Linked DNA regions of Homo sapiens: region 2 is linked to region 1. The links come from fine-mapping of genetic effects on gene expression. A gene starts in region 1. The other region holds a variant in brackets. All regions are shown on one strand. Distances are between the middles of the regions. Region 1 holds the start of YARS2 (tyrosyl-tRNA synthetase 2). Region 2 holds the start of LOC124902914 (a long non-coding RNA gene).

Region 1 (8,338 bases):
GTTTGTGCAGGGACACTCTACGATATTTGCAATGATGAAATCACCTAACAACACACTTCCCAGAATGTATCCCTATTGTTAAGTGATATATGACTATAATATCATCCTATATGTATTCTCTTTTTCTTTGGTGAAATATATATAACACACAGAAAAAAGTACATTATTCACAAAGATATAGCTTAATGAATCATAAAACATCTATGTAACCATCACCATGGTCAAGAAATACAGTATTGGGCCGGGCGCAGTGGCTCACGTCTGTAATCAAATAGTGAGTTTGGCAGAGTTGCTAGATTTAAAGGTAATATATATAAAGTAATTGTATTTCTATACACCAGAACCAGATAGAAAATGCAATTTTTGAAAAGATTATCTAAATTCTCTAGGCCGGGTGCGGTAGCTCAAGCCTGTAATCCCAGCACTTTGGGAGGCTGAGGAAGGTGGATCACTTGAGGTCAGGAGTTCGAGACCAGCCTGGCCAACATGGCGAAACCCTGCCTCTACAAAAATACAAAAATTAGCTGGGCATGGTGGCGCATGCCTGTAGTCCTAGCTACTCAGGAGAATCACTTGAACCCAGGAGGCGGAGGTTGCAATGAGCCAAGATCATGCCACTACACTCTAGCCTGGGCAACAAAGTGAGACACTGCCTCAAAAAAAAAAAAAAAAAAAAAAAAAGATTATCAATTCTCAATACATCAAAACCCCAGGACTATATCGTCAAACATTCTAGGACTAAATCTAAAGAGAAAAAAACACAATTACCAAAATTTTGTAATAAGGCATGATAATCTTCCACTCTGTTCTTCAAAAACATCTTGGCCAATCTTAGCCCTTTTTATTTCTATGTCAGTGTTACAATGAGCTTGTCAAGTTCCACAAAAAGCCGGTTTAGATATGGTTGGCACTGTACTAAATGTAGATCAAATCCAGAACTGGTATCTTGGCCGGGTGCGGGGGCTCATGCTGTAATCCCAGCACTTTGGGAGTCTGAGGCAGGTTTATCGCTTGAGTCCAGGAGTCTGAGACCAGCCTGGGGAACAAGGTGAAACTCCACCATTACTAAAAAAAAAATACAAAATTAGCTGGGCATGGTGGTGTGCACCTGAGCCTGGGAATTTCAGGCTACAGTGAGCCAAGACTGCGTCACTACACTCTAGCCTGGGCAATGGGAGTGAGATTCTGTTTCAAAAAATACAAAAAAGAACTGATATTATTTTTGTACTATGAATATGGTCTAACTCTCCATTTATGTAGGTCTTTATTTTGCTCAATAGCATCTTTTAATATTTTGCAGGAAAGTCATATACCTTTTAAGTCTTAAAGAATTATTCCTAGATTACTTTGATGTTACAGAGCATCAAAATATTTTTTTCACTTTTTGTTGCAGGTATATTTGTTTCTCATTAATTCATATTCTTCCAAGAGTTTAAGGCAATTTGATTTAAGGAGAAATCATTTCTTAAGAGGATCTTTAAAGTCATATTTGTGAGAGAAGAGAGACAAAGGAAAAATAAGGGTAGTCAAGGTTAAGTTGAAAGGAGTGAAAAAACTAGAATATGCAGGTGATAAAATCCTAAGAACTTGCTAGATACAGATCAAAAAGTTGGCTCTACATTTTCTAGCCACCCACTGTTTTTCTGCTTTAACCAACAAAGTGTTTAACTTTAGAACACAGTAAAAATTAGTCTTCTATGATGTAATGGTTTATGTACAGACAGAAACTACGTTAAAAACAAAAAAACTATAAAATGTACATAGATTCAATGGCTAAAATTACATCATGAGTTTATGGTGTCAGTTTTTCTCAGCCCATTATTCAGAACTCACCTTTCCACTGAATCGTCCGGTTGCCTGACAAAGAATTGATACAATTCAAATGGAGATGTCTTATCTCTGTTTAGCCAAACAGCGTTGCCAGCAGACTTTCCCAGCTTTGCTCCAGTTGTACTTGTAATTAGAGGAACGGTGATTCCAAATACATCTTCTCCAGTCAACCTACGCATAAAGAACAATTTCATTATGTGCCTCAAGCACAAGTGGTGGTAGGTTCTACTGTTCACCTTCCAGATTTCTTTCTGGTTACTTGCTCCAGGAAAACTTCCTTGACCTCCTAAATCTGAATTCTTGTTCCTCTTATGTATTGTTACAGTACTTACTCTATTCATTCTGAACCTCATGAGTGGTTCCAGGCAGGTTCTAGGCAGGCCAAGGGGAAGTGCTACATAACAATGGACTAGAGATTTTGAAAGGCTGAGTGGGAAGGAGAAAACTGGGTGAAGGGGTGTCAGGAAGAGACACTAAAGGAAATCTTCTAAACGCCTTTTAAACATGTGCTTTGCTCTGTTGCACATGAGCTAGCCCTATCCTTCACCTCTCTCAAGAAAATGCTATTAGACCCGCATTACTTGTCAATTATTTGGAGTTGAAAAAACTTTTTGAGATACCAACCAAGGACTAACACTAGTTTCATGGAGGGTGCAGAGCTAAAGCAGAGGCTAGCTACTCAAGGAGGCCCAGTCACGTTCTGGTATAAACACACAAAAGCAGTTTCTCTAATTAGAGAGGACGACTTAGGCGAAGCAAAACAGACCGACCAAATCTTCACTAGTGGTCTGTTTCCCTTTTTTTTTTTTTTTTTTTTGAGACGGAGTCTCCCTCTGTTGCCCCAGGCTGGAGTGCAGTGGCGCGATCTCGGCTCACTGAAACCTTCGCCTCCCGGGTTCAAGAGATTCTCCTGCCTCAGCCTCCCGAATAGCTGGGATTACAGGCGTGCATCACCACGCCCAGCTAATTTTTAGAATACACCGTTTACTCTTAATACCCTTAATTCAGCCCTTTAATTCTTATTAGCCAGTGTTATTAACGCCATTATAGAGCCTTAATGGGGATAAAACCAACAAGAGCTGGAACGAAGGGCAGCAACTACAATCCTAAGAGTGAATCACAGGCTACTAGTGTGTAAATTATTTGGTCCCAGGATTTCCCCAAGGTTTAAAGGCACTTACTTGTTGATGAACTCATATCCGGACATGATGTTGCCTAGTTGATCAGATCCGCCCAGCTGGACCCTGCATCCATAACGCTGGAAGAGGTAATAGAAGTCATAGGCCTGGAGCACCTGGTAAAAGAACTCGGCCAAGCTCATGCCCTCGGGGCTCTTGAGCCGCAGCTGCACGCTCTGCCGGCTCAGCAGCGTCCCCATGCGGAAGTGACCCCCCACTGCCGCCAGGAAGTCCACCAGGTGCTGCTTCTGGTACCAGGCCGAGTTGTCCAGCACAGTGAAGCTGCCCCAGGAGCGCCCATCAGTGAAAAGCTGCTGGTGATTAGCCGCCAGGGCCTCAAGCCCTAGGCGCAGAGCTCGCGCGTTGGCTCGCACGCGCTCTGTCTCCAGCGCCTCGCGTTCCTTGGTACGGCCGCTCGGGTCTCCCAGGCGCGCCGTGGCGCCTCCCACCAGCGCGATCACGTTGTGGCCCGCTCGCTGCAAATGAAACAGGCCCAGCAGCGCAAGTAGATGACCCACATGAAGCGAGTCTGCCGTGGGGTCGAAGCCACAGTAAATGGTTTGGGGAAAACTCGCCGTGCCACGGTCGAAGAGCTCTGGGAGCTCTATTTTCGTCCCCGTCTCCGGGAAGAAGTCCTTGAACAGACCTCGAGCCTTCTGCGCTGCCAGTAACCCCTGAGCGCCCGAGTGGGCCTTACGCAGCCCCAAGGGCAACAATACTGAGAGATTTAGGGTACCAGACCACCGGCCCCAGGAAAAGGACCGCAAGATGGGCGCCGCCATCTTGGTAGCGGCACGAAGGGAATGCTGGGATTGCAGAGGCTCCCACCACACCCACCTACTTACAGCTCCTAGGGAAGGTGCTTCAGTGTTTTTCTGCGCATGCCCGAGACGGTTACGTAGTTACGGAGCTTGCGCTCTCAGCAGTTGAGTCCCGACTCCAAGTGGCGATTCCGCCTCAGAGCCGTCGCCTTACGTTCCCTTAAACTTAATTTTTCCATCAGCAGTGTGGATCTGCTTATGATAGTTCCTACCTCATAAGGCTGTTGTGAGCCTTAAAAATTAAAGCATTTGGCACATAACGCTTCACAAATGCTAACTTGTATTTACATTTTCACGTAAAAAGATTGTGATGCGCAAGTTCTTTGAAGTCTTGGTTCCATGCAAAAAGCTGTTCACAGAGGTTGAGAAAGGTTAGGAATTGGTTTAAGTTCGCGGAGAGATAGGGAGTTGCTGCTGAGACGCAAGCAATTTCATAGTACCGATTCCCTAATTGCACCTCGTCCCCAGTATTCATCGGCTCTTCCAGGAGGTGGCAGTCTTGTCCAAGGTATAGCAAGAAAAACTCAGTGCAATAAAGTACATGCATCAAGTCCTGTGGTTTATTTATTTTAAATACAGTTAACTAGGTTGGGACACAGCTTAGCATGAGTGGATTCAAGTTAGTAATCACATCGTGCAGCGTGACAGGTGCTCTGAATACTGACCAGGGATGAGGTTCTTATTGGCAGCTGGCTGGCAGGTGATCTAGCTTCAAAATCCCATGTTAGAGCCTGATTTCTAGGACCGCTTTCAAAATCGTCTTAGGTAGAATTCCCTGGACTCTGAGTTGGGGGGGAGACTGGTTTGCAGGAGGGTAATTGGAGTGTGCTCTTAAGAACAACACCTATAATGGAGTGAGGGAGGCCGGGTTGGGCGGAGGGAGAAAGAAGTTGAACTGTGAACAATTTGTAATAGAGGCCTCAGGCAATCCAGTAAGGGCTCTGGAGCCGGGATTTCCTTTCAGAGTCATCCTGAATTGAGGCCAGGGGGCAGACCTTTAGACCCTCTTACTGACTGCTCATTAAATGTGGGATGTTTCTGGGGAGGAAGCAAAACGCTGGGTTAAGGCTTTTGGAGAGTGAGATGTGCAGGAAGGGACTCAGCTGTGAGCAATAAGCAACCAACACTCCCAGCAGCTGGGGGATTGAGTGCCTTGGTCCTGTGACTGGGATCTGGGCCATGTTCCAAATCATTCCCTACAGGACTTTTCCATTTTTTAACGTTATAAAGTTATCTAACAAAATGAAAACTTATTTTAATAATTAGTTTCTTTGCATGTATAATTATCAGTGAATTAGTTTCTCATTGCCAAATAGTAACTTCAATAGGATTTTGAGATACTCATTCAATAGGCTATTAAACATACTCCCAACTGCTTAAGAAAATAGTGTGTTCAAAATATCTTAAAATTTGCAATCATAACCTGTTGATCTTCAGTGTTTTTTTTTTTTTTAAGTGTCACTCTGTTGTCCACACTGGAGTGCCGTGGCAGGATCATGGTTCACTGCAGCCTTGAACTCCTAGGCTCCAGCGATCTTCCTGCCTCAGCCTCCCAAGTAGCTGGAGCTACAGGTGTGGACTACCATGCCTGGCTAATTTTTATTTTTTGTTTTTGTAGAGACGGGGGTCTCACTGTATTGCCCAGGGTGGTCCTAAACTCCTGGCCTCAAGCAAGCTTCCCACCTCTGCCTCCCAAAGTGTTGGGATTACAGGCATGAGCTACTTCGCAAGGCCAATCTGCAGTCATATGGTCCACCACTTTGATCAGGGACAGATTTCAGTAGGTATGGCAGGAAATTCTCCTGAGCACACGTAAGGAAACTCACATCTGGGCCACTTGTCACTTGAAAGCCAAAAACCCAAGAGAAGAGCTGTAGTGAAAGTAAAGTTAGCTTTATTCAAGAGACCAGCAACCCTGGGGGATGCAGTGAGCTAGCGTTCAAAGACCACCTCTGGTTTTTAAGGGCAATTAAGAGAAAGGATGATAAAAAGATTTTTGTGAAACGTGTGCAGTCTCAGGTCGGCAGTAAATCATTGCTTTCTTGGTCAATATTTTGTGGCTTTCTGCAGGTACCATCAGCCTATTCTTATTAGGTCGGTCAGCCCATTCACAGAGAGGCTGATCTAGGTATTTTCTTTTATCTCTGTTCAAGATCCTGTTTTTCTGAGGCTGATTTTAGTGAATGATCTACAAAATCAAGCAAAGTAATAATTGTATTCAAGTAAGCAAGCTTTCTTCTAACATGGAATCAGTACTGTCACACACACAGCAAATGGTGCTTTCTATTTAGTACCTTAATACATAGGGCACACATGTGTTTCTGGTGACACACAACTCTCTGGCTTTTACAGGTGTGTTAGTAATTTGAAAATCCTACTTGTTACAACAGTATGCCAGGGTTACTTGATGTCAGGGTTACTTGATGACCTGTGCTTAATGGAGAAGAATTTTGTGGATAATGAGAAATAGAAAATTTCTACCTGGGATTACAATTTATTATAAAGTCTTTTAAAAATAGATTTGAGCTCTGCTTTGTCTCTTAAGTTTAGTTGCATCTCATGAAGAGGCAGCAAAGTCTGATATAGAAGGTGGTGTCGGGCCGGGTGCGGTGGCTCACGCCTGTAATCCCAGCACTTTGGGAGGCTGAGGTGAGCGGATCACTTGAGGTTGGGAGTTTGAGACCAGCCTGACCAACATGGAGAAACCCCATCTCTAATAAAAATACAAAATTAGCCGGGCATGGTGGCGCATGCCTGTAATCCCAGCTACTTGGGAGGCTGAGGCAGGAGCATTGCTTGCACCCACGAGGTGGAGGTTGCAGTGAGCCGAGATCATGCCATTGCACTCCAGCCTGGGCAACGAAAGCCAAACTCCGTCTCAAAAAAAAAAAAAAAAAAAGAAGGTGGTGTCACAGGAGGTGCTAGATGAGACTTGACAGTAGCTTAATGACAGTAACAAGCAACAAGTTTGGAAAATACAGTGAGATCAATTACTCTCTTTTTATAATTTGTGTTGGTATTATAGGGGAAATTGGGCTTTGTCCCAAAGACAGGAGCAATAAAGAAGATGGGACTTTCAAACCTTTGGAATTATATCCGTGGCTAAAATTTTATGGGATTGCACCCATGGTTTGCATTTGGGTTACAAAAAAGTGACCAAGTTAATTCTTGCTGTTTTTATTGGCTTAAAAAGTGAGTGAACAAGGGTTAAAAAGTATTTTTAAAAATATGATTTATCTCAACTGTAATAACTTGAGGTTAACTGGCCTTGAATTAGAGGCACATGTGTTTTACAGTTACCTTTTCCTGCAACAAAATGCCACATAAATGTTCTCTTTGAAGGGATCCCTGTTTTAAATGGCTTGGTTTTCAAAATGTAAACAAATATAAATATAATAGAATTCAAAAGACACAGAGTAAACAGTAATGGTATTTTAACTGATCTCTACTTAACTTTGAAAATTTCTCTATCTCTAGCATTGTATTAAATATATATTCAGATTACAGCAGAGATCTGATTAGGGCTGAAATATGAGCTGCTCGAACATCACAGCAAAATGACAGCAGAAAGAAGTCTGAGGAATTCTGATCATTATAATCACTATAAAATATAATTCTTATTTGTGTTTTCTGTTTTTTTTTCCTTGGAGAAGATTATTGGTGACATCAGATGCAAAAGGGAGTGGATAGGAACAAGAAATAGAAATTGTAAACCTATAATTGTAAACCTACGTAACCATGCCCGGTTACGGCCGGGCATGGTGGCTCACGCTTGTAATCCCAGCACTTTGGGAGGCTGAGGCGGGCAGATCACCTGAGGTCAGGAGTTTGAGACCAGCCTGACAAACATGGTGAAACTCCCGTCTCAACCAAAAATACAAAAATTAGCCAGACGTGGTGGCGGGCGTCTGTAATCCCAGCTACTCAGGAGGCTGAGGCAGGAGAATCACTTAAACCTGGGAGGCGGAGGTTGCAGTGAGCCGACATAGCACCACTGCACTCCAGCCTGGGCAACAGAGTGAGACAACATCTCAAAAAAAAAAAAAAGAAAGAAAAGAAAAAGAAATTGTAGGTTATTGCAGAAAGGCCATGGCTTTTCTTCCAGTTGAAGTATTTCCATGGCTTTTCTTCCAGTTGAAGTATTTCCATGACATTCCTATCTCCTATTACTTGGGAAGAATCATTTCTAAAGATTGATTTCATGTCTTTGTTGTCTTTGTATAATAATTTATAACTCAATCTGCCTCATAATTACATCTTCTCACACATGACTTTCATGTTGCTGTTTTTCTTGAAACCTACATCTAAAGTCCTAAAGATCCTCCCACTCTGCCCATCCTTACCTGCAAGGCAGTTGCTCCCCTTTCATTCCAAACTAATTTCTTTCAGGAAGCTCCTCTGCATTAGGTAGGGCGAAGGAAGGATGCTTTTACTGTCCAGGTTCATCATGCCCCTAAAATGTATTAAAATGTAAAATCAATAATGCTTACCCTTCCCACACAAAAAAAT
Region 2 (8,338 bases), 100 kb before region 1:
TCAGAAGCACTGGTAGAATGTTTATTCAGTGCTTAGTTCTGTGCTAAGTACTGTATTTACATTATCACATAAAAGCCTCACAATAACATTCTAAGATTCAGATAAGAAAACAGATTTGGCCAGGCGTGGTGGCTCATGCCTGTAATCCCAGCACTTTGGGAGTCGGAGGTAGGTGGATCACTTGAGGTCAGGAGTTCAAAAACAGCCCGACCAACATGGTGAAACCCTGTCTCTACTAAAAATACAAAATTAGCTGGGCATGGTTGCGCACGCCTGTAATCCCAACTATTTGGGAGGCTGAGGCAGGAGAATTGTTTGAACCCGGGAGGTGGAGGTTGCAGTGAGCTGAGATAGTGCCATCGCACTCCAGCCTGGGCAACAAGGGTGAAACTCTGTCCCTACCTCCCCCTCTCCAAAAAAAAGAAAGAAAACAGATTTTAAAAAGCTAATAATTTGTCCCTCAGCTCTTGATGTCCTCTCTTCTACCCTTACCCATTTTAAATCCGATGTTCAGTCACTGATCACTCCCTCACATTCACTCACTTCCTTCGCCACGTCTAGCTTTGTCTCGCTTGGCAAAACCAAATCCCCAGTTTACTCAGTTCTGTTTTCATACTTGTACCCATGTGGCTGAACAAAGCAGATTGGTTTCACCTAAAATTTATTACTAGGTCATCACTACTTCCTCCTGAGACCTCCACTGTATCCCCAATCCTCCATCCCAATAGATGACCTTCCTTCCCACTTTAGTAAAATACAAGCAATCAGCAGGGGACAGCCTCCCACAACCATATCTAAGCCACCTATTACCTCTTGAGACCATATACTCTCTCTCCCTGCCTATCCATGTCCTGTCCTAATTGGGTCCCTCACCTGTGCACAGTATCCAATTTCCCATTCGCCTGCCATTCTCCCTTTCTCATGTAATGTCAGATTTCTTCTTGAATCTTATTAGCGAAAACCTGCTATAATTCTTCCCAACGTAAGCCTCTTCACTCCACTTTTCCTCCCATTAGCAGCAACACTCCTTGAAAGAGTTTTCTATACTTACTGTCTCCAATTCCTCTCTTCCCGTTCTTTACTGAACGGATTCCAGTCAGCATTTTGCACCCACCATTTCACTGAAACTGCTCTTATATCAAGGTTACCAATAACTTGTATGCTGCTAAATTCAATAGTCAAGTTCTCAGTCCTCATCTTAGTAGCATTTGACATACTTGGTCATGCTCTCCTTAATTCACTTTCTTCCCTTGGCTTGTAGAACCCCAAACCCTTGGATTTTTTTTCTATTTATGTATTTACTTTAGGGATGGGGAGGTCTCTCCATGCAGACCAGACTGGTCTTGAACTCCTGGACTCAAGCGATCCTCCCATCTCAGCCTCCCAAAGTGCTGGGATTACAGGTGTGAGCCATAGCGCCCAGCCCCAAACCCCTGATGTTCTTCTCTTGAACCCTTTCTTGGTCTTCTTTGCTGTTTTTCACACCTTTCAGGGGTGTCTCAGGCCTAAGTATGTTGTGACTTATCTCCTTTATCTGCACTCATTCCACTAGTATTCACACATACTTTCATACTTTCATGCTGTCAACTCCGAACTTTATTTTATTTATTTTTTGAGACGGAGTCTCGCTCTGTCGTCAGGGTGGAGTACAGTAGTGTGATCTTGGCTCACTGCAACCTCTGTCTCCCAGGTTCAAGCGATTCTCCTGACTCAGCCTCCTGAGTAGCTAGGACCACAGGCACATGCCACCAAGCCCAGCTAATTTTGGTATTTTTAGTAGAAACGGGGTTTCACCATGTTGGCCAGAATGGTCTCGATCTCTTGACCTCGTGATCCACCTGCCTCGGCCTCCTAAAGTGCTGGGATTACAGGTGTGAGCCACCGCTCCTGGCCCCAATTTTATTTTTACTTATTTATTTTTGAGACAGAGCCTTGCTTTGTCGCTGAGGCTAGAATCAGTGGCATGATCACAGCTCACTGCAACCTCTGCTTCCCAGGCTCAAGCAATCCTCCCCGACTCCAGCCTGAGTGACAGAGCAAGACCCTGTGTCAAAAAGAAAAGAAAAAAAAAAAGGAAAAAGAGAAAAAACAGGACTTCAAAATATAATGGTGAAAATCTTAGTCAACCTTGGCACAGTGGATTCTTGTTTTTAAAAAATCAGTCTCAGAGCTAGGCATCATGCCTGTAATTCACCTGGGAGGCTGAGACAGGAAGATCACTTGAACCCAGAGTTCGAGACCAGCTTGGGCAACATAGCAAGACCTGCAGCTTAAAAAAAATAAAATTAGGCTGGGCGTGGTGGCTCACGCCTGTAATCCCAGCACTTTGGGAGGCCGAGGCAGGCGGATCACGAGGTCAGGAGATCAAGACCATCCTGGCTAACACGGTGAAACCCTGTCTCTACTAAAAATACAAAAAAATTAGCTGGGTGTGGTGGCGGGTGCCTGTAGTCCCAGCTACTCAGGAGGCTGAGGCAGGAGAATGGCGTGAACCTGGAAGGTGCAGCTTGCAGTGAGCCGCGATCACGCCACTGCACTCCAGCCTGGGTGACAGAGCGAGACTCCATCTCAATAATAATAATAATAATTTAAAAAATAAAAAATAAAAAAATTTTACAAGAAAAAATATATATATAGAGAGAGAGAGACATACAGTCTCAGCCCACTACCACCACCATTATCACAGCACCTGGACTGTGAGGAGATTAGAGGCAGCTGATGACTGTCCCAGAAGGAGCCGAAAGTGCTGAAGGACAGACATCCTGAGGAAATGGGGCTGGCAGAGTGGACCTGGCAAATGGTTTGGATAATGAGCGCCTAGGCTACCATCACTTTCTTACAGAGGAAGTGATTCATGCACTGTTTTGTCCTGCAGGTAAGTAAAAACAGAAAACCAGTTTGCTTACTCTCTTAGTAAAGGAAATGCTCTGCTTTTATAGAATAAGATTAGGGCCTCATAGCCCACTGTGGCATTTTCACAAAAATTGCTATTTTTAGATGATCACTTAAATATGTCATTATCATACACCAAACAAAAATAATTACGGTGCAAAAAATTAACTTAAAAAATTGTTTCCACATAGAATCATGTTATGTTTAAAAGTGGGAAAAATGTATGTCATCTGAAAGATCATCTTGTGGTTTTTTTTACTATCTGCTGAATTTGTGTGTATGTCTATGTATGTGCTTGAAGACTGGAGAACAGGAAGGCACAGAATGAATACAGGGTAAATGAACCAAAGGATCCAGGCCCACAGTTATAAAAAAAATAGGAGGAAGAACTCTCAATAAAAAAGAATTATTTGCCACTTTGAGAGGACAAGGTGGGAGAATCACTTGAGGCCAGGAGTTAGAGACCAGACTGGGCAAGATAGTGAGGACCCTCCTATCTTTAAAAAAAGTAGTAATAATTAGGTGGGCATGGTGGCATGAGCCTGTAGTCCCAGCTACTGAGAAGGCTGAGGCAGGAGGATCGCTTGAGCCCAGGGGTTTGAGGTCGCAGTGAGCTATGATTGCACCATTGTATTCCAGCCTGGGTGACAGAGTGAAACCCTGTCTCAAAAAAAAAAAAAAGAAAGAAAGAAAGAAAGAAAGAAATGAAAAATTATTTGCTAAAAAAAGTCATGATGCTTTCGTGAGTATACCTTTTTGCAGAGTTTTGACTTTTGAACCATCTCAGTGTTTTATAAACAGACACACACACACACACACACCCCTAATGGTGAACACTCCCCTCCCCCATGGAGTACAAATATAAACAAGTGAACATATCCATATATCAAATGGTACCAAATGAAAAACATAACCACACTGAAGAGAAAAAAGAACTAACTCAAACTTTTGCATACAGTATGTGGACTCAGAGTGCAAACAAATATTGAACTCTAGATCCCTGGCTTGTTTTTCCCAGTGGTAGAGCTTAGTAGTTCTAACATGTGTTTATTTGTTTTGCTGAGTTCTAGAACTCAGTGAATGTGATAGTTCATATTGAGTGTCAACTTGATTGGATTGAAGGATGCAAAGTATTGTTCCTGGGTGTGTCCGTGAGGGTGCTGCGAAAGGAGAGTAACATTTGAGTCGGTGGACTGGGAGAGGCAGACCCACCCTCAATCTGGGTGGGCACTGCCTAATCAGCTGCCAGCGCAGCTAGAATAAACCAGGCAGAAGATGGAAGAGCAGACTTGCTGAGTCTTCTGGCCTTTGTCTTTCTCCCGTGCTAGATGCGTCCTGCCCTTGAACAACAGACTCCAAGTTTTTCAGCTTTTGGACTCTTGGACTACACCATTGGTTTGCCAGGGGTTCTCAGGCCTTTGGCCACAGACTGAAGGCTGCGCTGTCGGCTCCCCTACTTCTGAGGTTTTGGGACTCAGACTGGCTTCCTTACCCCTCAGCTTGCAGACGGCCTATTGTGGGACCTCACCTTGTGATCGTGTGCATCAATACTCCTTAATAAACTCCCCTTCATATATACATCTATCCTATTAGCTCTGTCCCTCTAGAGAACCCTGACTAATCCAGTAAATAAATATGCTGAGGATAATGGGAGCCAAGTTTCCTACTGTCAGAGAAAGCAGATATAGATGTGGAAGGGGGGACATAATAAATCCTATGTTATTGGAATGGAAAATAGGTATTAATGGTTTAGCTAAGTATAAATATAGATATAGTACATATAATACCTATGTGGGGGGTTATATAAATGTACATATA[C/T]ACATATTTTCTAGCTGTCTGCTGTGAGGGTCTAGAAGTAATACCCCAATTTTGTTTTTGTATTTTGTTTTCTAAACACCATTTTCCACTAAAAAGAACCAGCATTCCTTGAAGAAATGGTTGATTCAAGGGCTTGGGCAGGAAAAATTCACAATAAGCCTGGAATATTATATTGTACCAGAAAGTAAGAAAGGGCCCAAAGAATGATGGGGACATGTCAGAAGAACTAGGAGGCAGCTTGAAGGGTCTCCCACTGGCAAAATCTGGGACAGTTAAACATAAAAATTAACAAAAAAAATTTAAAATGATGGCAATGGATTATAAAATCCATTGAATAAAGGAGGAACACAGGAATCCAAACATATGAAAGAATGAATAAATAAATGATAAGAAAAAGTGCTTATAGTAGGATGTCAACAAGTAAGTGTAGAAGAAATGATAAAATGAAAACATTAGCAATTGACAAAACAAAGGAATCATTCAGAATCCTCAGTGGACATTGATGGGTAAAAAATTCTTGACCAGGATAACTACATAATCTCAAAATATGTCTCCATAAAATTGCTTTTTTGTTTTGTTTTGAGATGGAGTCTTGCTCTGTCCCCAGGCTGGAGTGCAGTGGCAGGATCTCAGCTCACTGCCACCTCCACCTCCGGAGTTCAAGCAATTCTTGTGCCTCAGCCTCCCAAGTAGTTGGGACTACAGGCGTGAGCCACCACGTCCAGCTAATTTTTGTGTTTTTAGTAGGGACATGGTTTCACCATCTTGGCCAGATTGTTCTGGAACTCCTGGCCTCAAGTGATCCGCCCACCTCAGCCTCCCAAAGTGCTGGGATTACATGCTGAGCCACCGCGCCTGGCCCATAAAATTCTTATTAATTACAAAAATAAAAATAGTAACTTTGCAGTAGAAAAACTTGGTGGACAGCATCTTAACCAAGTTAACATTACCAGTGAGGACAAACTGGTCTCATGTATCTCTTGATATGAAGCACTGAGAGGACACATCACATCTGTTGTTTTCCTGCTAAAAGTGAAATCTATCTGAGTATTTGGGGTTACATGACAAACTAAATACATTTTTAAAAGTGTAATCTAATCATGAGGAAATAACAGACAAACCCAAACTCAGGAACATTCTATAGAATACCTGGCCTATATTTGGCAGGGCACGGTGGCTTACACCTGTAATCCCAGTACTTCGGAAGGCCGAGGCAGGCGGATCAGGAGGTCAGGAGATCAAGATTATCCTGGCTAACACGGTGAAACCCTGTTTCTACTAAAAATACAAAAAATTAGCCGGGCTTGGTGGCGGGCGCCTGTAGTCCCAGCTACTCGGGAAGCTGAGGCAGAATGACATGAACCTGGGAGGCAGAGCTGGCAATGAGCCAAGATTGCACCACTGCACTCCAGCCTGGGCGACAGAGCGAGACTCTGTCTCAAAAAAAAAAAAAAAAAAAATTACCTGGCCTGTATTCTTCAAAAATGTTAAATTCAGCTGGGCGCAGTGGCTCACGCCTGTAATCCCAGCACTTTGAGAGGCCAAGACGGGTGGATCACAAGGTCAGGAGTTCGAGACCAGCCTGGCCAATATGGTGAAAGCCCATCTCCTCTAAAAATACAAAAATTAGCTGGGCTTGGTGGCGGGCACCTGTAGTCCCAACTACTCGGGAGCTGAGGCATGAAAATCACTTGGGAAGCGGAGGTTGCAGTGAGCCAAGATCATGCCATTGCACTCCAGCCTGGGTGACAGAGTGAGACTCCGTCTCAAAAAAAAAAAAAAAGTTAAGCTCATGAAAGACAAAGACAGACTAAAGAACTGTTCCAGGTTAAAGGATAGAAACACATGATAAGTAAATGCAATGTGCGCTGGACTTAGGCCACAATTTATTCTTTCTTTTTTTTGGCTATAAAGGATATTATTGAGATAACCGTTAAATGAATAACATCTGTAGATTAGATCATCATACTGTAGCTGCTAATTTTTCTGTTTTGACCATTGCACTGTGGTTATGTAAGAAAATATCCATGTCCTTGAAAATATACACTGAAGTATTTGAGGAAAAAGACACATCGTGTCTGTAACTTATACTCAAATGGTTCAGAGATGAGAGAGAGGGAGAAAGAATGATAGAGCAGAAGCAATGTGATAAAAATGTTAAAAGAATCTAGGTGAAGGGTAAACTAGAGTTCTTTTAAAATACTTATGACTTTTCTGTAAGTCTGAATATATTTCAAATAAATTGAAGTTTTGGAAGAAATGTAAATTAAAATGAGATATTACTACACACCTGTTAGAATGGTCAACATCGAGACACTGACCACAAATGCTGACAAGGATGTGGAGCAACTGGAACTCTCGCTCATGGTAGGTGGGAAGGCAAAAGGGTACAGCCACTTTATAGTTTGACAGTTTTTCTTGCAAAACTAAACTTATACGAACCAGCAGCACACTCCTTGGTATTTACCTAAATGAGTTGAAAACTTATGTCCACACACAAACCTGCTACAGAGCAGCTTTATTCACAATTGCCAACACTTGGAAACAACCAAGACGTCCTTCAGTAGGTGAACAGATCGACAAATGTGACAATGGAGTATTATGCAGCACTAAAAAGAAATTAGCTATCAGGCTATGAAAAGACATAGAGGGACCTTAAGGGCATTCACCAAATGAAAGAAGTCAACTAAAAAGGCTACATATTGGCTGGGTGCAGTGGCTCTTATGCCTGTAATCCAAGCACTTTCGGAGGCAGAGGCAGGCAGATCACTTGAGGCCAGGAGTTCGAGACCAACCTGGCCAACATGGTGAAACCCCATCTCTACTACAAACACAAAAATTAGCTGGGTGTGGTGACACGTGCCTGTAGTCCCAGCTACTTGGGAGGCTGAGGCATGAGAATCGCCTGAACTCAGGAGGTGGAGGTTGCATTGAGCCAAGATCGTGCCATTGCACTCCAGCCTGGGGACACAGCAAGACTCCATCTCAAAAAGAAAAAAATATATATATATGGAGACATATTTTGAGATTATGTAGATATCCTAGTCAAGAATTTTTTACCCATCAATGTCCATTGATGATTCTGAATGATTCCTTTGTTTTGTCAATTGCTGATGTTTTCATTTCATCATTTCTTCTACACTTATTTGTTGGCATCCTACTATAAGCATTTTTTCTTATCATTTATTTATTTATTCATTCATTCATTCATTCATTCATTCATATGTTTGGATTCCTGTGTTCCTATTTTATTCAATGGATTGTATAATCCGTTGCCATTATTTTAAATTTTATGTTAATTTTTATGTTTAACTGTCCCAGATTTTGCCAGTGGGAGACCCTTCGAGCTGCCTCCTGGTTCTTCTGACATGTCACTTGAGCCTAAGAGTTTGAGACCAGTCTGAGCAACATAGTGATACCCCATCTCTAAAAACAAAAACAAAACTACATATCATATGATTCCAACTATGTATATGACATTCTGAAAAAGGTAAAACTTTGACACATTAAAAAGATCAGTGGTGGCTCACGCTTGTAATTCCAGCACATTGGGAGGCCAAGGTGGGCAGATCACTTGAACCCAGGAGTTTGAGACCAGTCTGGGCAACATAGTGAGATCCTGTCTCTA

Evidence for each region.
Region 2: its variant is fine-mapped to the expression of YARS2 in visceral fat (GTEx, PIP above 0.99).

Annotation. Positions count from the first base shown.
Region 1 is chr12:32,752,085-32,760,422 of GRCh38, forward strand. YARS2 (tyrosyl-tRNA synthetase 2) reads right to left here and starts at 3,813. Exons shown (of 5, transcript NM_001040436.3): 1 at 3,012-3,813; 2 at 1,834-2,001. The coding sequence starts at 3,790. RefSeq lists enhancers at 2,753-3,392, 2,949-3,108, 3,393-4,032, 3,479-3,578, 3,599-3,828 and 1 more.
Region 2 is chr12:32,647,890-32,656,227 of GRCh38, forward strand. LOC124902914 (a long non-coding RNA gene) reads left to right here and starts at 2,609. Exons shown (of 2, transcript XR_007063270.1): 1 at 2,609-2,875; 2 at 4,221-4,470. The variant C/T (reference allele first, on the strand shown) is at 4,711.